4 linked regions of the Homo sapiens genome follow. The protein of the gene in region 4 purifies or fractionates together with the protein of the main gene of each other region. This does not show direct contact. Each region holds a gene or a part of one and is shown on either strand. Other genes may lie near its edges.

What was found.
Region 1: the proteins of FIP1L1 (region 4) and CPSF2 purify together in Homo sapiens (affinity purification with mass spectrometry; 7 studies listed by BioGRID and IntAct, with this or other methods). This does not show direct contact.
Region 2: the proteins of FIP1L1 (region 4) and WDR33 purify together in Homo sapiens (affinity purification with mass spectrometry; 5 studies listed by BioGRID and IntAct, with this or other methods). This does not show direct contact.
Region 3: the proteins of FIP1L1 (region 4) and CPSF3 purify together in Homo sapiens (affinity purification with mass spectrometry; 5 studies listed by BioGRID and IntAct, with this or other methods). This does not show direct contact.

What each region holds. Positions count from the first base shown.
Region 1 is NC_000014.9:92,152,969-92,159,968, forward strand, and holds part of CPSF2 (cleavage and polyadenylation specificity factor subunit 2), read left to right. Parts: intron 1-1,389; coding exon 1,390-1,490; intron 1,491-2,154; coding exon 2,155-2,355; intron 2,356-3,510; coding exon 3,511-3,663; intron 3,664-4,690; coding exon 4,691-4,916; intron 4,917-6,014; coding exon 6,015-6,314; intron 6,315-7,000. UniProt on the Homo sapiens protein: Component of the cleavage and polyadenylation specificity factor (CPSF) complex that play a key role in pre-mRNA 3'-end formation, recognizing the AAUAAA signal sequence and interacting with poly(A) polymerase and other factors to bring about cleavage and poly(A) addition.
Region 2 is NC_000002.12:127,703,169-127,710,201, reverse strand, and holds part of WDR33 (pre-mRNA 3' end processing protein WDR33), read left to right. Parts: intron 1-345; coding exon 346-509; intron 510-619; coding exon 620-712; intron 713-1,309; coding exon 1,310-1,525; intron 1,526-3,649; coding exon 3,650-3,879; 3' UTR 3,880-7,033. UniProt on the Homo sapiens protein: Essential for both cleavage and polyadenylation of pre-mRNA 3' ends.
Region 3 is NC_000002.12:9,418,787-9,426,686, forward strand, and holds the start of CPSF3 (cleavage and polyadenylation specificity factor subunit 3), read left to right. Parts: upstream 1-4,867; 5' UTR 4,868-4,987; coding exon 4,988-5,037; exon of another isoform or gene 5,038-5,429; coding exon of another isoform or gene 5,430-5,449; exon of another isoform or gene 5,450-6,174; intron 6,175-7,746; exon of another isoform or gene 7,747-7,774; coding exon of another isoform or gene 7,775-7,836; intron 7,837-7,900. UniProt on the Homo sapiens protein: Component of the cleavage and polyadenylation specificity factor (CPSF) complex that plays a key role in pre-mRNA 3'-end formation, recognizing the AAUAAA signal sequence and interacting with poly(A) polymerase and other factors to bring about cleavage and poly(A) addition.
Region 4 is NC_000004.12:53,422,617-53,429,649, reverse strand, and holds part of FIP1L1 (pre-mRNA 3'-end-processing factor FIP1), read right to left. Parts: intron 3,779-7,033; coding exon 3,685-3,778; intron 1,624-3,684; coding exon 1,467-1,623; intron 1-1,466.

The sequences.
Region 1 (7,000 bases), on a different chromosome or scaffold from region 4:
ATTGCTGCAATGTACGAATGTACTTTTTTTTTACACATTTGTGATTGTTTCAGTAGGATAAATTCCTAGAAGTAGAAATACTGTGTCAAATGTCAAATTTTATTTTTAGATGTTAGCAAATTGCCTTTTAACATAGTTGCACTAATTTTCCAACAGATAATGGAAGAAGGTACTCTTTCCCCATGTATGGCATTGCCAATCTCATAGATGAAAACAATTATGTTTTTTATATTTTGTGCTTTTCAAAAATTAGTAAAATTAAGGATCTTTTCATGGCCAGTAGTTATTTGTCTTTCTTATTTTGTAAATTGCCTTTTTAAGTATCTTGTGCTTTTTCATGTGTTGATCATCCTTTTCTTAACTAATTTGGAAGAGCTCTTAGGAAAAAATCATTTTTATTGGTCGTAGTGCTGAAAATATTTTTCTGTTTCTTTTTTGTTTTTCTTTTCAGTTTCTTATTTTGAGATTTAAAATGTCAAAGGGAGTTTTTCTTTATTCATGTTGCTGTATTTATTTATGTTTCCCATTATGGCTTTTGGGCCTCACCTACTCCAAATTATAAAAATGCTTATCTGTATTTTCTTTTCCTGATTGGTGATTTTTAACCAGTTTGATTGTTTGGTTGATTGAGACAGGGTCTTGCTCTGTCAGACTGAAGTGATCCTCAGTCTCAGACTCAAGTGATACTCAGTCTCTGAGTAGCTGGGACTACAGGTGCATGCTACCACTACTGGCTTTTTTTTTTTTTTTTCTGAGACAGAGTATTGCTTTGTCACCCAGGCTGGAGTACAGTGGTGTGAGCACAGCTCACTGCAGCCTTGACCTCCCAGGCTCAAGTGATCTTCCACTTTAACCACCTGAGTAGCGGGGACAACAGGCACATGCCACCACTCCTGGCTTTTTTTTTTTTTTTTTTTTATGTGGAGACAAAGTCTCATTATGTTGCCCAGGCTAGTCTCAAACTCAAGTGATTTTCCTGCCTTGCAAAGTGCTAGGATTATAGGTGTGAGCCACCGTGCCCAGCCTCCCAGCTAATTTTTAAATTATTCCTAGAGACAGAGTCAACCTATGTTGCCCAGGCTGGTCTTGAACTCCTGGCCTCAAGCAGTCCTCCCACAGTGCTAGGATTATAGGTGTGAGCTACTGTGCCTGGCCAACCAGTTTGATTTAAATTAAACCCATTCTAGATGATGTGTGACAGCTCAATTTTAATACTAATCTAAATAGGACCTATAATTGTATGTAATGGAAACTTGATTAATTTCAGAGGAAACAATCAGTTTAAAGATGATAGAGCAATTTAGAGATGTGATGTATCTCATATCCCACTGCTTTAACCCCCTAATATTAACATATTAACATTTCCTTTTGTCTTTTATTTTTTTTTAGTTGAGGAAACGTGTGAAGCTTGAAGGGAAAGAACTTGAAGAATACTTGGAAAAAGAGAAACTAAAGAAAGAAGCTGCCAAAAAGCTTGAGCAGTCAAAAGAGTGAGTCATTTTCAGACAGATTATAAATTTATGGATGCAATTTGAGAAGAATGTGTCCTTGACTTAAATGTTTCATTGAAAATATTTTTAAATTTTCGTAAGACTTAATTTTGTTACAGACATCTTTCAAATGTCTAGAATACCAGATCCTGTCAGTGCTAATATTATTATGCATTTATTTGTTATGTTTTATAAAATGTCAGTCCAATAAAGTTGAATGTTATTCCAGTCATGCATCACTTAATGATGGGGACAGTTCTGAGAAAAGTGTCGTTAGGGGATTTAGTCATTGTGCAAACATTAGGATATATGTTTACACAAACCTTGATGGTATAGCCTACTGTGTATCCAGAGTATATGATATGGCCCATTGTTCCTAGGCTACAAACCTGTACAGCATGTTACTGTACTGAATACTGTAGGCCATTGTAACACAATGTTAAGTATTTGTGTATCTAAATGTATCTAAACATAGAAAAGGTACAGTAATCTTATGGGACCTCTGTTGTATATGTGGTCTATTGTTGTTGACCGACATAACTGTATATTATCATTTAATATTGAATTAATAATATTGAGTATGGATTCAGTAATAAATTGATAAATATTAATTTAAAATATCTTTGAAACTTTATGACCTTGATCTATTCTAAAATCCTCCTAGGGCAGATATAGATTCCAGTGATGAGAGTGATATTGAGGAAGATATTGACCAGCCATCAGCTCATAAGACGAAGCATGACTTGATGATGAAAGGTGAAGGCAGTCGTAAAGGAAGTTTTTTCAAACAGGCAAAAAAGTCCTATCCTATGTTTCCTGCCCCAGAAGAAAGAATTAAATGGGATGAATATGGAGAGATTATCAAGTATGTGAGCAAAACAAACTTTTCTCTCTTACAAATTGGAGGTATTAACTGTGTTATCATTTCATTTCAGTGAATTTGATCTTTCACTTGATCTTTCTAGTCACATGTATGGGGTTAGCTTCTGAGTACCTCAGCCTGAAGACACAGAAGACTTGTAACTTGAAACATAAAAATAGAGATGCTGAGAAACATCTAGAGAATATTGAGAGAAAACTGGCAGTTTATGACTTAGTTGTGTAAAGGTTTAAAAACATGATCACGTGATCAAGACTTTTTTCCCCCACTTAAAAAGAGAGGAAGATGTAGGATAGGAAGAACTTTGGGGCTGTGTGTGGTGGCTCATGCCTGTAATCCCAACACTTTGGGAGGCCGAGATGGGAGGATCACTTGAGCTCAGGAGTTTGAGACCAGCCCAGGCAATATAGTGAGACCCCCATCTCTATCTTTAAAAAAAAAAAAAGAACTTTGGATGGCTGGTGATTGCATTTCCAATGGATTATGTCTTAAGTATTATACAAGTTTTATGAGATTAAGAGGAATGTGAGATAGCATGAGTGAAATCATGGAAAAATCTACAAAATCTATACTGACTATTAGAAAAACAACTGCAATCACATGTTGTAATTGCAAATTTGAAAACACTACTATCCTGTGTGGAAAATAAAAAAAGAAAAACATGATACAGGCCAGGTGTGGTGGCTCACGCCTGTAATCCCAGCACTTTGGGAGGCCGAGGCAGGTGGATCATGAGGTCAGGAGTTCAGGACCAGCCTGGCCAAGATGGTGAAACCACATCTCCACTAAAAATACAAAAAAATTAGCCGGGCGTGATGGCAGGCACCTGTAATCCTAGCTACTCTGGGGGCTGAGGCAGAGAATTGCTTGAACAGGGAGGCGGAGGTTGCAGTGAGCCGAGATGGCGCCACCACACTCCAGCCTGGGTGACAGAGGGAGACTCTACCTCAAAAAAAACCAAAAAACGCAATACATACAGCCATCTGGTAATTGATATGAAATTGCATCAGCTTTGGATGAAATGTATATTTAAATCTTGAGATATGTGAGGACTCCAAAAATTATGCCACCTACTAGTCATATATGTTATGTAGTATTAGCTTGCTTTTTACTGCTTCTAATTAGAGACTTATTATTTAGACCAGAGGATTTCTTAGTGCCAGAGCTTCAAGCTACTGAAGAAGAAAAAAGCAAATTAGAATCTGGTTTGACAAATGGAGATGAACCTATGGATCAGGATTTATCTGATGTTCCTACTAAATGTATTTCTACAACAGAGTCTATTGAAATAAAGTAAGTGCTTTTGTGACATTTTGAAAATAGATTATAAGATAAAATTTCAAGCATTTGAATTATATAATTTACATTATGTCAAGCAAAATTTCTGAATATTCTTTAGTAAGTTTGTGCTTTTAAAATTTATTTTTGTATGAAGAGACTTGTGAAGTATGGTGGCATGATATTTTCTCTTCATTAATGGTATTTGAATGCCAAAGTAATTGAATTGGTGGTGGTGGGGGGTGCTTAAATTGTAACATTAAATTGTACATTTATATGAAGAAAAATTATTTTTGGCCTTTTTATTCTGTAAGCAGGTGAAAGGGAATAATGTGACTCACAGTTTAATTTTTCTGAGTAACTGCTTGTTTCATAAAATATACTCCTTAACTTAAACATCTCTAAGACCCTAATGTCTGGAAAATACTGTTGTGATCTGAAGTAGTTAGAAACCTTTTTTCTCCCGCTTTCTACTTAGTTAAATAATACCAGTAAGTGATCATTTTGGAATTTCTTTTAAGTCATCAGAGAACAAAGTTTTTTATTTGTCCAGTAATATCATTTAGTATATATTTTTGGGTGTAGATAAAATCTAAATAATACAGATAGGGCCGGGCACGGTGGCTGATGCCTGTAATCCCAGCACTTTGGTAGGCCGAGATAGGCTGATCACTCGAGATCAGGAGTTTGAGACCAGCCTGGCCAACATGGTGAAATCTCATCTCTACTGAAAATGCAAAATTATCCCTGCGTGGTGGTGCATGCCTATAATCCCAGTTACTTGGGAGGCTGAGTCAGGAGAATCACTTGAACCTGGGAGGTAGAGGTTGCAATGAGCGAAGATCATGCTACTGCACTCTAGCCTGGGCAAAAGAGCGAGACCCAATCTCAGAAAAATAAAAACAAAAATAAAATAAATCATACAGATACTATAACATGTGTATTTCTCAAATCCTAGTGTTATATATTGTATACATGATAAAAGCCATTTTTTTTTAGAATTATGAGAAAAGTAATCTTGAATAATCATATCTAATTACAGAGCCCGGGTTACCTACATAGACTATGAAGGACGCTCTGATGGGGATTCCATTAAAAAAATCATTAATCAGATGAAACCACGACAGTTGATCATCGTCCATGGCCCACCAGAGGCCAGTCAAGATCTGGCAGAGTGCTGTCGCGCCTTTGGTGGGAAAGATATTAAAGTGTACATGCCAAAGCTACATGAAACAGTTGATGCCACTAGTGAAACTCACATCTACCAGGTAAACATGCCAGGAGTTGCCATTGAGTAGAAATAAGTACTTTTTGTTGCAGGTTAGGACAGATAACATTAGAAATACCGAGATGTGTGAGACAGACATGGATGGTCTCCTGCCCTAGCAGACCTCATAGGGTATGGGGCTTAGAACAAGGAAATACCATTTATCATGTTGTTGTGCCACTGAGAGAAGAAGTACAGGATGCTATGAGAGTATCAAGAGGGGAAACCACCCACATTTAGAGGTTTAGAAAAGGTTTCCTACAGGAAGTGATAACTAATCCTAACTGATGTTTAGATGGGTTGTCAGGACAGACAGAGTAGGAAAGGGGGGGAAGAGCGTTCTAGGCAGAGGGAACCATATTTGCAAAAGTACAGAGGTGAGGAAAATGATTAAGAATTCAAAAGTTTTAGAAGAATTCCCGGATATCAAGGTTCTACTCCTAATTGGAACAAATGGAGATGGATACCAAATATAGGACTAGCACAGTAGAGAGATAAATTTTGTCTGGTAATGGGAGATGGTGTCAGTTTAAGGCCAGAGTGATGTCTATATCTGGAAGAAATGGATGTGCACATACCAGGCAGGAAATTTATTCTGGGCAGAGTAAGAAGAAGCAACCTTCCAAGAATATGGAGATGTGAAATTCTGTGGTATATTCAGGAAAGGACAAGCAGTTCAGTACCTACTGAAGTATGCCAAGTACTAGAGGATGGGAGTGATCAGTGGTTCTCAACCTTGACTGCACATAAGAATCATCTGGGGAGCTTCGTGAGGGTCAGAGGGACTCAGTTTTTCTGGTCTTAATCTTACCAGTTATGTTAGAAACACTGGATATGACGCTCTGATATACTTTTTGTTTTAATTGCCATGTGATTCCATTTTGTAGTCAGGGTTAAGAATCTCTATTTTGGAAAGTAGGCAGGGGCCCAATGATCTGCAGGTAATGAGGTCATTGCAGGTCATTGTGGGACTCAGATGAGTGAAAGATTTTCCAATTTTAACATATTACCAGAGGTAGAAAATGATAATAGGTTATATTTAATTTGTTAATATGTATTCTGTGGGTTTTATTTCTCTCCCCCTCCTTTGCATGTCTAGGTGAGGTTAAAAGACTCACTTGTCAGCTCTCTTCAGTTTTGTAAGGCAAAAGATGCTGAATTAGCTTGGATAGATGGTGTCTTAGATATGAGAGTTTCCAAAGTGGACACAGGGGTTATTTTAGAAGAAGGAGAACTAAAGGATGATGGAGAAGACTCAGAGATGCAAGTGGAAGCTCCCTCAGATTCTAGCGTTATAGCACAACAAAAGGCCATGAAAAGTCTGTTCGGAGATGATGAAAAAGAAACAGGTGAAGAAAGTGAGATCATTCCTACTTTGGAACCCTTGCCACCTCATGAGGTAAAAAAAGCATGTGCTTTTTTGATTTCTTCCTGAATTTGTCATCCTTCTAGTTTTCATGTCTTTTGGTTTTTTTCCCCCCTTCTAAAACTAAGTGGGTCTGTGGAACCTTTTATATTTTTAACCATTTAAAATATATGTCAGCTGGGGGCAGTGACTCACGCCTGTAATCCCAGCACTTTGGGAGGCTGAGGTGGGAGAATTGCTTGAGGCCAGGAGCTCTACATCAGCCTGATTATAGGGACACCCTGTCAGAAACCTAGTCGGCATGGTGGCATGCACCTGTAATCTCAGCTTAGAAGGCTGAGGCAGGAGGATTGCTTGAGCTCAGGAGTTCGAGACTACAGTGAGCCACAATTGTGCCACTGCATCTAGCCTATATGATAGAGTGAGACCCTGTCTTGAACATAAAATATGTCTCACATTTGGGCTGATTTTGGAGTTTTTAAAAAAGAGAACTTGTGACATGCTTCTGTGTGTATGTCTCTGTGTATATATTAATTCTATATAGCTAAGGAATGACATATCTTTAGCAAATCTTTTAAGGTACATAATTGTTTCATGATTTTTTTTTTTTGGTCTGGATTTTTAAATTTTAAGTTTGATGATTGTGAGGATCACCTGCCTGCTTCCAGTCAGGAGATTTATAGTTTTCTAAGAAAGTCATACTGTTTTTTTTTTGTTTT
Region 2 (7,033 bases), on a different chromosome or scaffold from region 4:
TGGGCCTCAGTGTTCTCATCAGTGGAACTGCTGATAATACCAGCTTCATATGGTGGCTGTGAAAATGAAATGAATGAAATGAAGTAATACTTGTATATACCTAAAAGCCTAAAAGAAGCTTAAAGTAACTCCACACTCTGGTGTGTTTCCTTCTGGTCTGTTTTTGCCTCTGATAGTATTAATAGGATTATATAATGTATCCTTTCAAAAATATATAGTTTTATTTTGTTTTCCTCCCAATTAACATTGTATCATGCTTTCTCATATCATATGCTTCTTTGAAACATGAACTTAGAGTGGCAAGGTGTTCTCTGAGATGGACATTCTGCTGTTTTCTCTTTACAGTTTCAGAAGAGGAGCCCCGCCGAGGCATGAGGGCCGTGCTCCCCCCAGAGGAAGGGATGGTTTTCCTGGTCCTGAAGACTTTGGTCCAGAGGAGAATTTTGATGCTTCTGAGGAAGCGGCCCGAGGACGAGATCTCAGAGGTCGAGGTCGGGGTACCCCACGAGGTGAGCGAGTTACTAAAGACACCTGGTCTGGAAGGATAGGGTGCAGAATACACTGGTTGTGAATACACCAGGAACAGTCTGAGTGCAGCATTGTTTGCTCTGTTGTGTAGGAGGAAGGAAGGGTTTACTTCCCACTCCTGACGAGTTCCCTCGCTTTGAAGGAGGGCGGAAGCCAGATTCCTGGGATGGAAACAGAGAGCCTGGTAAGGAAAAGAACCGCTTGTTGGGTAACTCTAGACTGCAGTTCACAAAGTGAGTTCTGAGGGCCCTCTCTGGGGTGCACCGGGTCTCCTCTTTCCAGCTCATGTCTCCCGGGGGGCTGGGCTGTCTCCTGTCCTGCAGCCGCAGCACTTGATCTCAGCAGGTGGAATGCAGAGCAGAGGAATCCGCCAGACATTACAGGGATCTATCTGAGTATAAAACGGGACTGCTCTTTCCACTAAATTGCTTTTGGAGAATAAAGTTAAGTGAATTAAAATTTCCCCAGTCTCAATTGCTAATATGGTAAATATTCGCAGTTACAACTCTCATTAACAAAATCTCTTAGGAGTCCTCAGTAATTTGAGACTGTAAAGACGTCTTGATACTACAATGCCTGAGAACGAGTTCTCTGGATCTTACCTGCCCCTCTTACATGAGGAGGCACCCTGATGTCTGGGTGGCTTACCCTTTGGCCTCTGGCGGGCATTCAGCATGAGTGAACGGTGGCTCTCGAGTTGCTCCTTACTCTCACAGTGTCATTCCCATCTACTTCTGGTCACACTGTGCTTTCCTGTAAGGAGATTTGTTTCTTGTTTCAGGGCCAGGTCATGAACATTTTCGTGATACTCCCCGCCCTGATCATCCCCCTCACGACGGTCATTCCCCAGCCAGCAGAGAACGCTCCTCTTCTCTCCAAGGCATGGACATGGCATCCCTACCTCCCCGAAAGCGCCCCTGGCATGATGGCCCAGGCACTTCTGAGCACAGAGAGATGGAGGCCCCAGGAGGCCCTTCTGAAGACCGAGGAGGCAAAGGTAAGAGCAGGCCAGTGGTTATGGTTCCAGGAGATGCAGGGGCCGATGGAGGCCTTGCCTGTATCTGCTGCACATGCCCTTGCAGCCTGGGCTGTGCAGAGGCACATGCTCCTAAATGTGGTGCCAGTGCCACACGAGCTGTCATCTGGTGGACTGCAACTCAGCCCTGCACAGGACTCCACTTGCCTCCGGGAATCCCTGTTCACTTGAGGTTTTCACTTCAGCCCTCTGCCAAGATGCCCCAGCACTCTCTGCTCGGCTTGCTGTCTGGGAGCCCTGCTCTCCTTGGCAGTCTGCCCTCCACAAGGCTGCTTGGAACCCTCAAGGGCTCTCAGTGGGAGGGGAAGAGTTGTCCTCTCCTGGGTGGTCTGTTGGTTTTTTTAGCCTGGGTCTAGAGGAACACTGCTTGTGCTCAAAGTCACAGAGACTTTGGGAAACATGGTCTATGGGCAGTGTTTCCAGGGGCACAGTAGATTATCTCCTCAACTGGGAACTGTGGAGCTTTATGTTATAGGCAGCACTAACTTTAGCCAGGAGTAGTTGCCTCTGAAGGCTGACTATACAACTCTGGTTGCAAGGCAGCGGGGGAGGTGCATAGGTGGTGTGGCTCGGAAGCTTCTGGGAAGGCTGCTCCCCGCATGCCCCAGCTTGTGCTCTGCTCCTGAAGTTGGCCTGTCTGTATGGACGGTCCTTCCAGTACAGAGTTCTGCCATTTGGTCTTTTTGGGTTTTTTTCTGTCGCCCAGGCTGGAGTGCAGTGGTGTGATCTTGGCTTACTGCAAGCAACCCCCGCCTCCCAGGTTCAAGTGATTCTTGTGCCTCAGTCTCCCCAGTAGCTGGAACTACAGGTGTGCGCCACCATGCTTTTGTGTTTTTAGAGAGATGGGCTTTTGCCATGTTGGCTAGGCTGGTCTCGAACTCCTGGCCTCAAGTGATCCACCTGCCTTGGCCTCTCATGAGCCACCATGCCTGGCCTGCCATTTGATCTTGATAGTTGTTTGTCTCAACAAAACCCTCAGAAATTACCTTATGTATCATCAATAGATCACCCTGCATAAACACATTGTACTACTAGCCAGTGTGCTGTGACCTTGGCTGACTTTCTTGGGCACTCAGCACACCATTATTAGGTCCCTCTGGTCAAGGACATGCAGTTAGCATGGGAATGATGTAGTAGCTGACACTCTGCCCAGGTGCCTCAGGTGGGTTGAAGCTGCACTTTCTAAGAAAAGAAGCCAAGATTGTTCCTTTGGCTGGCTCTCCTAACTTCATCTCAGCTAGATTCATATTCTATTACAAAATATGAGACAGCGGAGAGTTTGCAGTCATCTTCTGAGAGTGCATTATGGGAGATGTGACCAAATCCTATCATTTCCTGAGGAAAAAAATCTTACAAGATAGAATTTTTTTTCCTTTTCCTTTCTTTTTTTTCTTTTTTTTTTTTTTTTAAATATATTCTCAAGCTGCAACAGAATGAAAGAATTTTAATAGTACCTAAACATTTGTGCATACTAGTCTGAAGCAGGTTAAGCTGTGCCTCGGTGATAGAACCTGAAAGCCAGTGTTTTGTGGGGTTTTTGGGTTTTTGTGCTTTTCTTTTGTTTTTTCAAGAAATACTTTATTTTACTAATTATGAAAAGGAAGCCAAAAGTGCCACATGTCACGGGACAGTCCCAGTGAACGCTTGTCCTAGTTGGAGCACTTTTTATTAACATTAGCAGTGTGTACTTCCAAAGTTAAGTCAGTATATTCAAACCTTCCCTCAATATACCCTGGTGGCTGGGAGCAGGCAGATACACTTCCCATGGCCTGGGACATGGCCCAGTGTGGCCCGGGTCTCCCTGAAGGTGCTCCTTGCTCATCTCTTGGCTTCCTGTCGTCTGTCACACAGCCCTGGGGGCATGGATCTGGCTGATGCTGAGGCCCATGGCCATGAGCCAGGAAGGGGGAGGCAGGGTCAGGAAAGGGTAGAGGCACACCTCTCAGTACGCTGAATACCACTGCCAGTCTCCCTGGCACCCACCAGAACTGGTCCATTGTCATCAGAGAGTAAAGTTTGTACTGGGAGTTACTGACAAACAGTTGCTAATACAAAAAGTCCCATGTGAAATTTTCTTTGTTTCAGGCCGAGGGGGCCCAGGACCTGCTCAGAGAGTGCCCAAATCTGGGCGTTCCAGCTCCTTAGACGGAGAGCACCACGATGGATACCACAGAGATGAACCTTTTGGGGGCCCTCCAGGCAGTGGCACCCCTTCTCGAGGGGGCCGGAGTGGCAGTAACTGGGGTAGAGGGAGTAACATGAACTCTGGCCCGCCGAGGCGAGGAGCTTCACGGGGTGGTGGAAGGGGTCGGTAGAAGCTGGAACTGAGTACCCTGAGGCCTCTCTGGACAGTATGTAAGAACTTCTTGTGGACTCACCAAGAGAAACAAAAGGAAGCCTGCACCATTGTAGCCCTGAACTCTTTTCTGGGCACCTGAATCCCAGGAACCCTCAATGAGGTCTTCAAGATGAAGAGACTGCTGCCAGCTACCAGCCTGGCTGGCCCTGTCCTGTCCACCCTCATTGCCCCAACTCCCATGTTGTTTTGTGAAGATAAAAGCTGGGATCTTTTTCTTTTTTTTAAGTCTCACAAGACATGGGGCATCTCCACAAATTTAAGTTCCTGTCCATTTGGAAATTTGTTTCTATGTGTACAGTTTGTCAGAGAAAAACAAAGTTTTTGTATGAATACAGAATGTGATTTACGCAAGAATTGACAGAAAACTAGTTGTGAAGTGCTTGCCTTAAGGAAACCTTTGGTTTCCATCGCATCCCATCTGCCAAGGAATGCACGGTTGTTGCTGATGTTCATGAGCATATTAACCACTAGGTTATCTAAATTAATCTCAGCTGTGAACTTTGTGTTTTTCAACACATTCTGTCACACCATTTTTGTGACAGAAAAATACTTGAAAATTATTCTAATGTAGTTTGTAGTAGGTTCAAATTTTTATTCAGACATGCTCTGACAGATGGAAAATTGTACTCTGAAGAGAAAATGCAATCTTCTGGATGTCCAACGAGGGAGCTTCCCCTTGGAAGCATCTCCTAAGAATCACAGTTTAGGTTTGAATCGCCTTGTTATGATGAGGAGAGGAACTTGATGTTAGTCAGAAATAAAGTCACATGCCCTTTAGATAACTTGAAATCACACATGGAGTTGATAAGGAATGGACCAAAATAGGTCCTCAAACAATTTTGCAACACTTAATTAAGTTTTCCTCTCTTCCTCTTCCATACTATGTGGAAATACCAGTGTTACGGCAGGGCGTACTTCTAACTCACAGTAAGCCAGATAGATCTTGTCCATGGCAAATTCCTTGTTTAAAATAAACATACCATTTAGCCCAGTTTGGATTGGAAGCCAAAAATTCAGTTTGTTATATACCCCATGATACTTTCTATACTGACCTTTATTTTGGTTTTACATGGAAGCTTTTATTAAAAGGACTGTCCTATGGCCACCTTAACATTTCATTACATTGGCAGCTTCAGTTTTGGCATCAGTCAAATTTATTTGGCAAATTTAGTGGTGCTGGAAGTTTCTTTTTTTCTTTTCCTTTTTTGACAGAGTCTTGCTCTGTCACCCAGCCAGGAGTGCAGTGGTGCAATCACGGCTCACTTCAGCTTTGACCCTGCCTCAGCCTCCCTAGTAGCTAGGACTACAGGCATATGCCACCATGCCCAGCTAATTTTTTGTGTGTGTGTTTTTTGTAGAGATGGAGTTTCACCACTTTGTCTATGCTGGTTTCAAACTCCTGGGCTCAAGCGGTCCACCTGCTGTGGCCTCCCAAAGTGCTGGGATTGCAGATCTGAGCCACAGTACCTGGCCGCTGGTGCTGGAAGTTTCAATGGTTGCTTAGAAAAGGCATACTGATATAGTTTAACAGGATATGAAAATTTAACTGGTTCTCTATGAATGTAAAAAACAGCAAAAGCTAATTGATTTCTGTGGAGTGAGAAAATGTCAGCCATATACACTGCTTTTCAGTGTTAGAATCTAGAGACTATTTTTTTTTTAACTTTGAAATTACAGCTTATTTAATCAGCGCTCCACCATAAACATGCTATTAGGAGGCTCAAGATTGCTTTAGGTTATGGGTATTTCTTCACTCACCCCCAACTGGTATAGCTTAAAGAGAGAGAAACTGTAATCAAATTTCATGAAGCTAAAACCGGATCCAGAGACCAAACCCATATCAAGATTAGACTTTTTTTCCCTGAGATTCTAGTGGAAAAATTTTCATTATTTTGGGCTTTAACTTTAGAAACATAGTATCTCAGTAAGCAGATAACCAGATCACATTTAAAAATTTTCATTTTACCTTGAAGCTCTACTGGACTTGACAGATCACATTTTGAGAGTGAATTCATTTAAACAATAAACCTCTACATTATACTTATTAAATATATATGGCATTTAAAAACATCACTGTCAGCATACATACTAGATGTTGTGATTTGAAGCTTATAAAAAGTAGATTTTCAATGATGTTTGATTTGAGAAAAAATTTTTGAGACAAGGTCTCGCTGTTGCCTAGGCTGTGGTGCAGTGGTGTGATCACAGTTCACTGCAGCCTCAACCTCCTGGGCTCAAGTGATCTTCCCACCTCAGCCCCACCCCAAGTAGCTGGGATCACAGTTGTGTGCCACCATATCTGGCAAATTTTTTGAAGATTTTCTGTGGCGATGGGGTTTAACTGTGTTGCCCAGGCTGGTCTTGAACTCCTGGCCTCAAGTGATCCTCCCGCCTTGGCCTCCCAAAATGCTGGGATTACAGGTGTGAGCCACCAGCTGAGAAATGTTGAATTTTTAAGTTTTTATTTAAGAAATAAACATTGTAAAACATCATTATAAAACCCCCAACTATTGCAAGTTCTAGAGAAATTTAAAACTAGAACAGAAATTTAGGGGACTAGAAAGAGCAGCCAATGGCACAAGTCTTTACAATTAATTAAAAAAATAAATCATTCTGAAGATACTGCATTTGCTCTCTCACAAGCAGCCTCCTGAGGTAGGTAACCTTGTTTACTGATGGGGAACAAGGCAGTGTTCTTTACCAAATCTCAGGGCGGGTAGCCTGCAAGCCTACAGTGTGGATGTTGGCCACTTGTGTCACTTCTTGGGACGGGGCTTAGGGACCTGACTTACTTAGGAACATAAATTTTGGGGTTGGAGGAAGCAGCAGTGCTCTACTGCGGCACGACAGACACCCTGTTAAGGCAACACTGGGATCCAGCTCAGGAAAAGCATTACTTTCAAATTGTGCAAGCCAATGCACAGAAAAGTGGTCCTCAAACTTGGGGAACGTAGAATCACTTGGGGAGCTTTAAAAAGGTCCTGATGTCTGGGACCTACTTCCCAGGTTCTGACTGCATTGATCTGAGGTGTGGCTCTTCAAGTAACTGATGTGCAGTCAAGCGCGAGGACCACTGGCACACAATGTTTAAATTCTAAATATATTTTACT
Region 3 (7,900 bases), on a different chromosome or scaffold from region 4:
TTTTTTTTAAGAGACAGAGTCTTGCTCTTACCCAGGCTGGAGTGCAGTGGCACAAACATGGCTCTGCAGTCTTGACCTCACACCTCAGCCTCCCCGAGTAGCTGGGACTACAGGCATGTGCCACTACACCCAGCTAATTTCATTTTTTGTAGAGACAGGATCTTGCCATGTTGGCCAGGCTGGTCTCAAACTCCTGCTCTCAGGCGATCCTCCCGCCTTGGCCTCCCAAAGTGCTGGGATTACAGCTGTGAGCCACCATGCCCAGCCAGGAAAAGCAACTTTGATATTGGTTACAGTTACATCAGGAAATGCAACATTAAATCACTTTATGCAAAATAGAAATAAAAATCATCAATTAACTTTTCCCTTGGATACTATTCCTTTTCATTCTTTCCTATTAAATTATAGAAAGTTAACCCAATAAGCAAAAAAGGCAGAAACCTTCTTGTCCTACAGGTGTGAAAAGCACTTTTCTCAAAATTTTCAGACACGTCACCTAGTTCTCAAAATTTTAAGGGCCTTACTTCTCTTCAATTGAGTCAAGATTTTAGCAAAATATACTATGACACATTGGCTTTTCAGTCGAGATACTAAGATTCAGTAACCCTCTCAGTTTCACATTCTATACTTGGTAGGGCTAAGATATACACACCTCTCAGAAATGTGCATTTTTCTTGAAGTTTTGAAATACCTTTAAGTAAAAGCTGACACAAAGACATTCCCAGGTGCCAGCACCTCACCTCCCCTCTCTATTAAGCGTAGTTAAGGAGATGACCTTGCCTCCCAGAGTCTGTGTTACATATTTCTTTTTTTGAAATTAATAATAATAAATGCATTGGAAACTAAGATTCATCCTTGCCAGTTGCATAAGGACAGCATATACTATACTTGGCAAATTAACTAACCTACATGAAGCTGCACAGCTCACAGAACTCCCGGGACAGTTCTACTGTCATAGCCTCATGATAACCTTGTGACATATCCATTTGCTCTACTGATGCTTTTTAAGGGCATACCATATGCCACACACTCTGCAGGGCTCTAAGCTCTCCCTCAAGGGGCTCACAGAAGGTGGGCTGTAATCTGCCTTTTACAGATGAGGGAACTGTGACCTGCCTCTCAAGACGATTTATGAATAAGATAACCTGATCAATTTTTTACCAAAAACTGTATTCTCCAGAGAGAACAAGAAAATCTGCTTACTATAGAATTGAACACTATTTGACTGTCTTCAAAGGTCCCACATACAGCGGTCTGCACAGAGAGTTTCCTTTCATTCTGACCTGGGTGATGCTTTTCAGAGAAACTACGCACCTGATGAAGGAAAAAGAACGAGCAACTCACGCAGCAGTCAGTGAAAGCTCCTGCTGCAACCCAAAGATTCTCCGTATTTGGAGACCCCACTCTAAGTCCACTTACTAGGGGACGACATTAGGCCACTTGCCCAAGTCTGACCACTGAGCCCAAGCTTTTTAATCAGCCTCATCATCCAATTTACTTCTATATTTTTGCTTTATTTGTGGGGTACCAGGAAAATCTGATTTATTCATTCATTCCTGGATAGTCAGTGAGCACCTACCAGGTGTCGGGGATGCATCAGTGAACCAAACAGAGCCCCTGACCTCAGGGAGCCTGTTCTTAGCGAGAGTAGACAGACCAACAAGAAAAACACACATGAAACATATTATTAGGAAACCACTGCTATGAGGAAAACTAACACAAGTTGAGGAGACACAGACTAATGGAAGGAAGGGGTGGGTATTTCAGAAAAAGATGCTGTAGCTCTTTTTCTGAAAGAAGTGCGGGCAGCCATAAATAGCCTGGAGGCAATGCCGTGCGGGTGGAGAGGGGCCCGAGGGAACAGTCAAGGCTGTCCGGGAGCAGGAGGACAGCAATGGGCCCAAAGTGCCACAGAAGGCCAGGCAGGCCGCGGTAACAGTGGACTTTAGTTTAAGAGGAATACTCTGAAGGCTTTTTATTTATTTTTTGCTTATCTGCTGTGATCTTCTGGAATGGAGGCTTTTAAAAAGCAGTTTAGCGACACAATCAGGTGTCTTCTGTTTTTTAAACGATGACCCTGGCTGCCAGATAGCGAACTAACTCCACTGGATAAGGGTAAAAAGTGAGAGATGTGTTGGAAGAAGACTGCGGGTGATTGCTGCAAAGGGGAACCTTACCAGCACAGGACACTTGTCAGTGAGAGATGGCAGGAGAGCCTTATTCCAAGGCCTGCACGAAACTAGGTTAACGTAGCAGCATAAAGTGCCATGTTAATGGCGCTCACGGGTTAAAATGTTGATGTGTAACATATTTAAACATCAGATACTTAAGTATATATAAATACATATTTATATATAGGTAACAATTTTAAATATGATTTGAATTTTAAATCAAAACTTATTTTAAAAACAAAATGTGATTCTACTGTCAGTGGAATCCTGAAGTGTCTCCTCAAATCCCTTGATATGAAAATCATGACACGACAATGCCTTAGCAACTCCTTAAGGCTTTCTTTTCATCATCAACCCAGCGGCTTAGGAAAAAGCAGCATTTATTAAAGTCTTTGATATCTGCTGCAATTTTGATGCATGTTCTCAAGCAAATCATTCTTGCCTCAAAATTATTCATGGGTGGCTCACGCCTGTAATCCCAGCACTTTGGGAGGCCAAGTCGGGCGGATCACGAGGTCAGGAGATCGAGACCATCCTGGCTAACATGGTGAAACCCCGTCTCTACTAAAAATACAAAAAATTGGCTGTGCGTGGTGGTGGGCGCCTGTAGTCCCAGCTACTCAGGAGCCTGAGGCAGGAGAATGGCGTGAACCCGGGAGGCGGAGCTTGCAGTGAGCCGAGATCGCGCCACTGCACTCCAGCCTGGACGAAAGAGCGAGACTCCGTCTCAAAAAAAAAAAAAAAAAATTATTCATGCATCAAAATGAGGCCAATGATCCTGATTGGCGATTGGATGCTCCGCAGGCTCATCAAATGCAAAGATGTCTCAAGCTGAACCCATCATCCTCCCCTCCAGATCTGCTCCTCTCCTCTCCTCTCCCTGTCAGGAGATTCTATTATTGCTGGAGGAAGCCAGAAAATCATGATTTCCTTGCTGTCCTTCAGGCCCCACATCCAATCTGGCACCAAGACCCACTGTATACCCCACCTGAAGAGCTCTCTGAGCCAGCTCTCCACCAGGGCCCCCGTCATCCTAAACCATGGGCACAGACACTATTTTTTTAGAAACTGATGAATGTGATGGATCCTCACCCTATAAAAATGCACATCCATACAAAGTTTGGCATGAATTTAAGGAATTCACAAACCCAAGGATATTTCGTGGATAAGGGACCTTGTCCTACTGGATTCCCTAACACTTTAAATCTACCCCCACACTGCAGCCAAAACGATTAAAATGATTTCTTTCAAACATGAATCTAATGCCACTAGCCTGCTGAAAATCTTTCACTGGTTCTCCAAAGTCAGAGACCAAAGTCAACGTTCTTCAGCACGACACGCCAGGTCCTCCAGGACCCAGCTCCTAATCACCTTTCCACTTCCATCCTCCACAACCCGGGCACAGTTCATTGATCTCAGCAAGGCAAAGCTGCTCCTGGTTCTCAGCGCGATGCTCCACGCGCCCCTGCTTTGCACCGCCCGGGACGTCCTTCACCTGTCAGGCACTTGGCTACTTCTTACCTTTCAAGGCCCGTTTCAGGCTGCAGGCCTTCCTGGGATCTCAAGGCTGGGGTAAGGGACCCACAGCTTGAGTGTACCCCCTGATCACAGCGCCACGATCTGCTGTGGTCTCTGATCTCACTCTCCCAGCTGCACGCTGGTCAAAGGCGGAGCTCGGTGACTCCTCTGCATTGCCAGGGCGCCTGGCAGGGGACGCGCTTACTGAAGCCGAGAACTTTCTGGGGAGGTGACACCCCAACAGCGATTCCCATGTACCAAACGCCTACCACGTGCCATGCACGGTGCTAGGTGCACAGATCCCTCTCACCCTCACCCTCACCGACCAGCAAGGCTGCAGGATAACAGCCCCTTTCAAACGAGGATGCCAAAGCGCCCGAAGAGTCAGTGACCTGCCCAGGGTCACCAGAGTAAGGACGGATGCGGCCAAGCTCGGGGCCTAGGGAGAGCCGGCTCCGAAGTTCCTCCCAGACGCCAGCCTGCTTGGCACCTGTCTGTCACCGTGATGGAGCACCTTCCAAGCGCTGGGTGCGGAGGATGTGACAGCGAAGGGGACAGACAACCCCGACCCTGAGAGGCGGGAGGCGGCCGAAGCGGGGCAGAGGAAGAGGCAAGGAAACGGCCCGCGGCCGCCCGCCTTGCCGCCCCTCCGGGGCGACAGCGGCTCGGGAAGCTGCAGTCCGCAAGCCCACGCCCGATCTGCGTGGTTCCAAGCTCCTCCACCCGCGCCCCGGGAGCGCGGCCCCGCCCGGAACCAAGCCCGAGCCCAGGCATCCCTCCTCCGCCCGCCCCGCGGCCCCACCCATCCTTCCTGGCCGTCCGCGCCGCTCTCGGGACCGTGTTCCCGTCAGGCCTCCGCGAGCTCGGCCCCAAGCGGGACGAGGGCTGGGCGCTCACCTCGCAGCCGCGGGCCCATCCCCGGGTTGCGGACTTCGGGGTCCGCGTGGGAGTGCCGCGGCCTTTGGCGCCCAGGCAGCTACTCCCGTTCCCGCTCCAGCGCCGGCTTTTCCAGCCCTCCTGCCCACGTCCGCCGGGCCGCGCCTCCAAGACTATGCGCAGGCGCAGTCCTGACGTCCTACCCCCGGTTCCAAGACCCCAAGTGGTGGGAAGCCTCGCGAGCGGCGTCCCCCGACCGGAAGTCGAGGGGAGGAGTCTAGTGCCGCGGGCTCCGGAGTGACGGAAGTTGTGCTCTTGGTGAATGGGGTTCTTCCTTTTTTATTTACCGGTGGCTGTGCTTCCAATTTAGGAAGACCCCGGCGACCTGTTCCTCACCCCCGCTTCGCCCTCACACTTTCGGGATGTCTGCGATTCCTGCTGAGGAGAGCGACCAGCTGCTGATCCGACCCCTGTAAGGGACCAGCGAGAGAGGGAATGAAGCCACGGGCTGTGAGGGGCGCGAGGGGTAACCGGAGACTGGCCTCCTCCGTCGCCCGCGCTCCCACCTACCCCGGCAGCCTGCCTTTGGTCCGCGCTTGCGGGCCAGGCTTCTCAGGCTCGAGGGGTTGGAGGACCGTTGATCGGAAGGGGCCTGCTATAGAGTGAACGGGATTTTGCTTTTTCATCAGTTTCAGGGGAGGGTATGTTGGAGTCGGAAAAAAAAAAGTTTTACGGGGCCACCGCTCGCTTTCGTACACGCTAAGAAGCGTTTTCACTTAGCACAAGCACGGATCTCTGCGCGTCAGGGCAAGCTGTGAGGGAGCCGGTGAAGCTTATGACCGACAGGATGAGAGGAGGACCTGAATGAGGCTACAGCCGTGCAGGGAAGAATTAAGTCTGTTTCTTAACACCAGGGCTTCACATGTGCCAGAAGTTAGAAAATATTAGGGACTTGCCGTGAGTTTCGATCTTCTCAGCTCAGGCCCTAGTAGAATAAGGAAGGTGTAAAGCTGGAGAAGAGAAAGTGCAGAGGTGTTAGGGACAAAAACTCAGCCCTCGACTGTCCATAAGGAGAGTGGCCTTTCAGTGGACACGATCCTCATCAGTCGGGAATGCTGCTGAAGGGGAGATGCAAATGTAGAGAACTTGAATTCCTACAGATGAGCATTTCGAACCCACAACATGTTTATTGTTAGATACTAGTTGGCACAACATGAATATACGCTTTCCAAAAGGTAGAAAGTATCTCCTTTACACAATCATTCAGTAAGGCTTCATTGAGCACCTGCTTGGGACATAGTCCGTTTCCTTCTGCTTAGTTCACACCTGTCATGTCTTCCTGTGATGAGCAAACACTGAGCAAGTGTCAAGCACCACACATGGGGATATAGACGCAACAGAGGGCCCAGTTAATTGCTCTCGCTCTTTTGGAGAGAATTACAGTGCACAGTGGGAAATATTGGAGAGATACTTTGGAATAATAGGAGACTATTACTTTGAAGTCAGACCTGAAGTCCATTATCTACTTGACCAATTAGTAGGACAACAATCTCACTGAACCCGTTTTCTCATATGGAAATAAGATAAAACTTGAAGAGTGAACATCGCGGTAGGTGCTTTGTAAATAATAGCTAATCTAAGAACGCAGGCAGGCATTGCACTGAGCACTGTGAAAGTATGGAAAAGGGATTTCTGACAGATTGAGGAAAAAAGGATACCTCGTGGATCCTGAAAAATGTGATGCCTGAGCTGAGTCCTAAAGAATGAGTAGGAGTTAAAGACTGGGGGGCCCAGGATGTTCTAGGCAGTGGAAGTGGCACATATGAAAGTGAGAGTGGTCACAGCTTGTGGCCAGATTCCTCATGGCTGTAGCTAAAGAGTTGAGTTAGCAGATGAAGCGACAGGCAGTTGAGGTCCAGTTTAGGAAGCACCTCGTATACACAGGAGTTTGGACCTTTATCAAGTCAATTACAGGGAGCCAGCGAAGGCTATTAAGCAAGCATGGATATTGTGGGAATTATGTTTTAGGAAAATCTCTCCTGGCAGCAGTGTAGCAGATGAATAAAAGCATGGATGAATAAAAGCATGGATTGAGTAGAGCAGATTCAGTGAGATATTGAAAGATTCTAAGTCTAGCTGACGAGAGCCTGTAGTGAGTGATGTGAGTGTGAGAGAGTATGCAAATGAGATCTTCAGGATTTTGTGGCTGATCAGCTGTATCTGGAAGGGTGGTTGTGGGGAGGGAAGGCAGGGCAGAGAGGATGTTATGATCAGATTCCTAAGTTTGGCAGTTGGGAAAGGGTAGTGTTATTCACTCAAGGAGTATAAGAGATGGGGCAACTCTGGAGTAAATTTGGGAATTTGGTTGTTTCGTAACAGCTTTATTGAGATACAGTTTACATACCATACAACTCACAATTTACATACCATACAACTCATTTAAAGAGTATAATTCAGTCGTTCTTAACATAGAGTTATACAACCATCACCTCTCTCTAATTCCAGCACATTTTCATCACTCCCAAGAGATACCTTGTATTCATTAGCAGTCATAGACAATCCCCACTACCTCTCCAGCCCTAAGCAACCACTAATCTACTTCTTTATAGATTTGCCTGTTCTGGACATTTCATGTAAGTGTGATCATACAATACATACTCTTTTGTCTCTGGCATCTTTCATTTAGCATAATCTTTCCAAGGTTCAAAATTGAGGAGTTTTGTTCATTCAATAAGTATTTTTTGTGATGTGCTACATGCCAGGTACTGTAGCAATACAGCAGTGAATAAGATGGACAATGCCTCTGTTCTTAGGAAGCTTTCATTTAGTAGCCTGAAAGAAGACATAAGTAGGTACAATAACTTCATGTAGTTGTATTAAGATAACTGATGCTGGGTTGTGGCTTGCTGTGAAGGGCAAATTAGAGGAGGTAGTCAAGGGAAAGCATCTGAGAAGGTGACGTTGGAACTGAGACCCAAATGATACAAAGGAGCCAACCACATCAATATCTGAAGACAAAGCATTTCAGGAAGAAAGTAGAGCAAGTACGGGGCATGTGGTGGAAACTAGTTTGGCATCTTGAATATGAAGTCCCGGGAGAGATCCTAGTAGAGATACCTAGTGTCACGTGTATGTATTAAAGGTCTAGAATTCAGAAGAACAATCTGGGTTACAAATACAGGCTTGGAAGTCCTTAGCATGTCAGAAAGATGAGAATGAAGATTGAGAAGTTGGCCAAGGAGCAAACCCTCGGAATATCAACATTTAAAGGGTAGGCAGAGGTGGCTGAATATGTGAAGGAAACAGGAAAGCCAGCAAGACAAGATGAGAGCATC
Region 4 (7,033 bases):
AAATTATTTCAAATCACTACCTAGTAAAGTTTAAGTAATATTACAAAGGAATCCAACAGAGTACCACAAACATTAATAATTTTTTTAGTATCATTAATCAAATATGTTGAAACATTAATTATTTCTACCTTTTATTTATCTAATTCTTTTTCAGAGGACAAAGGATTCACATAGAAATCACAGAAGTCCTCATTTTGAATCACCTAAGTCCTCTTTCATTTGGTTAATACTCAGCATATTAAAGACACAAGAACCACAAGTCAATCCCAACTAATGAGTCGTTTCTGCTCAATCTATTTGTTGGAACTAGAAATTCACTGAAATTAGAAATACTAATGTTGTCTGGAATAAGGACCTCTAACCTATATTCCAACCTCTTCCTTCCACTATTGTTGAGACAACAGACCCTCTAAAGCCACAAGTCATTTTTTCATATTTTTCTCATACTTTTTGAGAGTAGAGGTGACAGTGGAAGGAAATCAAAGGCACTGAAGATGAAAGACAGAAGCAGTGGCTGACATTTAGAGGCCAAGGATGAATATGTTAGGGAAGGACTATTCAGACCCTGGATTTGGTTCTGTACTCGGATCACAACTGGCACCTTAAAACAAAGACAGCTCTCTTGCAAATAAAAGTGAGTGAGAGTACATGGCTCTCTAGTATAAACTGATTTGATTAATAGGAAGTAAAGCCTAACATACGTCTTTCATGTTGCCCTGATGAGGACAAGCAGCTATTTTTTCATCATTTACTACTAGCTTTCTCCCTGGGAAGAAGTAATTATTATCTCAATCAATCTTGCTAGTTTCATAAAAACTTGGTTAAGGCAGATAAAGGTTAAAAACAAAGTAAGAAAGGCAACCCGATGAAAAATTCAAATAAAAATAAAATTTGGGAATTATTTGTGAGTTTCTTCTCTATCACCACTAACCTGGTTTTTAATTGTAATCAAAAGTAGCTAAAAATATGATCAACATTTACTTTTGTTTAAAAGAAATAAATACCAGGCACCCAGTAGCAGTCTCCTAAAAGGAAACCGGTATACAGAAGAAGACCAGACTGAAATATTAATCAATCTCTTCGCAAGATATAATTTTTTGATCTACTCCCATCCTGAAAGTATCTTTTAATGTTTTTTTCAAAACAAATTAACACTGGTAAAGTTTGTAACTGAGTATGGATTTATACATATTCTATTAGCAACTTAAGTTTGGGGATCATTATCATATTTTTGAATCACAAGATTGGTATCTGTATATTCTTCTTAATTTTAGAACATTGTCTCTTTCCTATATTGAAATAGCAATAAACATATATATATCTGTTTCAGTGTGAATCTGTTGAAGATATTATATCTATTACTTTTAATGAAATGTGATCAAGATATTATTTTAATTGTCAAAAATTTTAAAAAACACTCGCAAGCTATTTTTCTTTCAAAGTCAAATGTCTTATTTACTATTTACCCGGTGGTGGAATCAGAGGTGGAGCAGTGCTGACAGTCGGAGGAGGTGGAAGAAATGGAGGAGGTGGAAGGTGAGTGGGAGGAGCTCCTGGAGGGAAAAACGGAGGTGGTTTGCTAAAATTGTTGTCTACTTCAGTAGCAGATCTTTCAGAAAGGACCTAAAATTAGAGCACAGTTAATTAAACAGATGCATAAATATTATGTAAGATTAATCTTAGTAAATTAATTTCATTTAATCTAAGAAACAAAGTAAAAGGTAGTTTAATTCACATATATGTATTTTTGGGGGGAGAGTAATAGTTCTACATGTGTGATATGTGTATACATACGCCTGTGTGAGTATACACATACATACAGTTTTAAAAATGTGCATATTCAAATCTTAAGAAAAAACAACTGGATCATTACCAAAAATTTCTTAATAAAAAGTAATTAATACAAACACTCCACACAAGAAAAAAGTACTTCATAAAGATCATTTAACAAGTATTATCTTTGTCACCCAACCAAAGTTGAAGTATTCAATTAAGGCAATGTAATCATTAATCACAGACACTGGCCTTAAGAAATTAACATGGCAGCAGGTCAGACATTCACTGTACAAGGGCCTGTCATCACCAGGTTGCAAAGTAAGAAACTGTCAGGCATGTGTCAACAGACTGCAAGCAATAGGCAGCAAGATATGTAAGTAACTTTATCATGTGAGCCTTGTAACTTTAAGACCAGGGTTTATTCTTGAAAAATAAAGCAATGTTTGCAAAATGCTTCTTTGTGTGAACAGGTTAAGGGACAGGCACCATAAGAAGCACCCCAAACCTACTGAAATAAAACAAGCAAAGTGGCACCTCAAAATCTGGATTTTTGATAAGCTCCCCAAGGATGTGTAAATAAATTTGGGAAAGACAGCCAACATAATGTTGTATATTTAATTTATACTTCTCAGATCCTTGCTGACTAAAGCAATCTTTTAAACATACAATCCCTCTTTCCATTAACACTTCCTACATTTAAGTGCAGTGTTTTTTGTAGGGCTTATGCTGATAAGCTATTTCTTAAAGTATTTATTTTGAGAAATCGTGGCATTTTAATGGTAAGGGGAAAGGAAAAATGGACTAACATCTTCCACTATAGAAATGATTTGCCTTTAAAGATGCTAAAAGGAATATTTTACATGATCAACTTATCAAAGGTAAGAATAAAGTGCTCTGGACATTTTTAAAAGGACTCAGAAAATAGGAATAAATAATGAAAAAAAGTATGGCCAAAATGAATAGCTGGAAGTCTCAGTTATTAAAGTTCTAACATTAATTATCCAACTTACTGATAATTTATCTCCCCTCAATTTTTCACCTAAAAACAAAGCAGCTCTACGCCACCTCCAGAAATGTCACATTAAATAAATCATGGTATATTTATCCAATGAAGCTATCATGAAGATATTTTAATCATATTTTAAGAATATGAAAACATACAAATGATAATTTTAGATGGGGAAAAAAGTATACACAGAAATATAATTATAATAGTATCCCAATTTTGCTTAGTATCAAGAGATGTACCAGATGTGGTTATCTTTAGGTGGTAAAATCACTGGTGGTCTTTTATTTTTCATTCAGTAAACCTATATACAAGTTGAGTATTCCTAATCCAAAAATCTGAAATCTGAAATGCTCTAAAATCCGAAACATTTTGAGCATCAACATTTTATCACAAGTGGAAAATTCCACACCCAACCTCACATGTGACGGATCACAATCAAAACTCAGGCCCACTACACAGTTTACTCAGGGTTGCCAAAGGAAAAAAGATTATCATAAATTAACAAATCATTATAACAAATTAAATAACTTATTTATGAAACATAAATTTCATGTTTAGACTTGGGTCTCATCTCTAAGATTACATACGTATGAACATTTCAAAATCCAAACATTTCAAAATCTGATACACTTCTGGTCCCAAGCATTTCAGATAAGAGATACTCAACCTGTACTATGTTTCTACCAAGGAAAAGAAAGAAAACCCTATTAAAAAAAGATTCAGAGATTATAAATTCTAACTGGAAATGCCTTTATAATAAATGACTGGCTTCACATTTTAAATCTCTTTGTATCACCTAAAACACAGCATAGCACTATGACTATCTATTGAATAAATTAAATTATAATGTTGATATCATCCTTCAGTTAAAGAAAATTATTTATTTTAAAATACTAAACCTGTATGTTGCTGTTCTCATTTGCCCGTCGCCTGCCTTCTACTCGGCTGATAGTTATAGTCTGACCGATAACATCAATTGCCCCAGGTAATCTCCTGTAACATAAAAATTGAATCAATTCAGTTTCACCTAATTAGATGCTTAAAAAATAATAAAAGCAGTGAGAAATAAAAACAAAATGTGTTTGCAATAAATTTTAAAATAAAACCAGATCACAATACACATTGAAAAATATCCCTGAGTTTAAGCTCACTACTTTGCATTGTCATAAAAATTTTTATTAATAAACAAGCTAGAACCAACATACCCAACAATGATCATAATGTTAAGTTTTAAGTCTCTGTAGAGCTCTTCTACACTTACTAGTTTTAGTAGTCTCCAAATAAATTTATCTTTGTGAAATTAAATAAGACAGCAAATGCTAGACAAATGGAAATTTTGGGACCACTACAATTGTAACACATACTACAGCTCTATTACAGAAACTTTAAATATTCCCCAAAAAGGCCTGAAAATAATGCTCATTTTAACATACACAAGATATTTTCCTTGTGATATATTCCAAGTGTTAAAAAACATAAAAAAGGAACCAGTTTGCCATTTCTGATAACTTGCATTTAGATAGAAAAATTCAAATATTTAAATACCCGCCTCACCTCTACAATCTTTTTAAAGTTTATAAGGATATGGAAAAATAGTCTATCATAAAACAATGCTATAAATTTAAGAGAAAAACCTAGTAAGTTGTATTTTAAATAAAATAATGTTAAAAGCTATTATGCAGATAAAGGACTTTACAAAAGTATGCATGCCTAAGATGATATAGAAGTCACTTGGAGAAATAGGCAATGAAAAGTGGATGCAAATTAGATGAATTTCTCTTCATCTATATTTCAGTTCTGAACAATACTGCCTTTAAAACTTTATAGAAGCAAAACAATTAAAATACCATAGATCCTTCCACAGTCACTAGATTAGGCTCCTAAAATGACAAATAACAGCAGCTACCATAGGTTGGATGCCAAACCCATTATATCTAAACTTCACAAAAACTGAAAAATTACTGTATACTTGTTAGAGACAAGCCATGGTCCAAAGTGAAATCACTGACACAAGCATGAATTAAATAGCAAAACTAACTTTCAAACCTGAGTCTTTCTAATCCCAAAGACTATAGACCTCCCCTCCCCTTGAGCTAGGTTTCCTTCCAGCAAGACCTTTGAGGAATTTAAGGCTTTTCTGGAAATCATGAGTTAGTAAGAGTTTATCTCAAGTAGACCTTGAAACACTCCACAAATTATTTTGTGCTAACAAAGACAGCCCTATAAAAAGCACATCATGACATCTGAAATGTTTTCAAGTACATAGTCAGTTCCCACTTACCATCCCTTGCCCACTTAAGACTTCCCTTCTCTATAACTTTAGTACAATTTAAAAATGTTCAAGCCTTTCTAATTTTATGCCTGAGTCACTGACTTCCTAGATTTCCTCATGATCCCAAAGATCATGAATGATTTCATTGGAGGATTAACATATCCTCCAATACAGCTGGGGAAAGATCTTAATATTCACATGTTACAAAAATCCAAATATCTCTACAATAAAACAAATATTGCTTCCATTTCTTCCCTATAATTTAAATTGCAAAGCTATGCCTACCATGACTGCATTATCAAAGCACATGCCATCAGCCCTCTGATATACAAACATTTCATATTCCAACATCCTACTAAATACAGGTGTGCATTCTGAGGCTGTAATTTCCTCTCTGTTAATTGCTGCCCTCCATTGTCAAAATTTTTATTTTCGCTCTATTTCCTTTTCTACTATTTTCTCTTGCCAATCACTGGACTCTCTCCTTTGCATTTTTAAATTTATTCCCATCAAGAACAAATTCTACCAAATTTGTTTGGACTTGCAAGTCAGATAGCAAATTCTCCAAATTGTTAAAAGTGGTAAAAATTAGATCTAGATATAACTTTCCTGTTGAGGGGAAAATTTTCTATAGCCTGTCTTTTACCATTTATTTCTGAGGATCTCTAGTTTTCAAAAAGTCTGGGACACATGGAAGTATTCACCTCTTAAAATGTACCTTAAATATGGTCAGAAGTCTAATTAGTTTTTTTCAACTTTAAATTGATTGTTTTTAATCACTAAAGATTCAAAATGGCAAATACTATGTTTCTAAAAACATATAACTGAGAAATCAGCCTTAACAAGTATATATCCCTAAAGGGAGTTCAGAAAATTACAATTCTCCACATTTTCAAAACATCTCCTTGTGCCCGTATTTTTTAACCACATAAACTGATTTACTTTAATCATATAAATTAAGCTTACCGTTTTGTTCCAAAATGTTTTATGATAAGACACACAGTATGTACCACAGCAACAAAAAGCACATAATATCTAACACTGACAAATAATTTAAAAATCTAATATTATTCTGATGCCACATTATGGAAAAAAATATTGAACCATATTATTCCACGAAAGTTCTTAATGGACAGCTTTTTCTTTCATTGCTTAAGAAGATTTAATAGAGTTTCCCTATGAGGAAATCTACTGTAACTTAAGAGTTCCCCAAAGCGTAGGTTTGATTAGGCCAACAAACTTGTTCAGTAAGGTAGACAGCTAATGCTATTATCAAAATCCTCTTCTCCATATTGGACTCAACCATCTAGTAAAAAGCTAAGAAACTAACCACTCTGGGTGTCTGAGTTAATGTACAGTTTAAACAGGCAGTAAATGTTCCCAAGAGCCTCTACCTCCCCTCCTGGCACAGTAAATGAATATAAAAATATCTCTGAAGTTACAATGGAATTAAATTATCATATTTTGATGATTCTGATATCCCAGAAAGAATCTGAGGGCTCCCTGCAGAGATGCAACAGAAAGTTTAAGATGACAAATCAGGGCTAATAGAAGATAGACAAAAGGCCATAAATTGATCTCTGAAGGTCAGGCTCACGCATGTAATGCCAACACTTTGGGAGCCTGAGGCGGGAGGATTACTTAAGCCCAGGAATTCAAGACCAGCCTGGGCAACATGGCGAGACTTTGTGTCTACAAATAATTTAAAATATCAGCTAGGCATAGTAGCACATGCTTGTGGTCCCAGCTATTCAGAGGGCTTAGGTGAGAGGATTGCTTGAGTCCAGGAGATGAAGGATGCAGTAAACTGTGATTGTGCCACTGCACTCCAGACTGGGCAACAAAACAAGAGCCTGTCTCAAAAAAAAAATATATATATATACATATATATATATCTCAGCTGCTTTTTCTTGGAAGCCAAAGCAAAGGACATCATTAACAACAAATGTCTTTAATGTGCATTAAGATTAAAACAA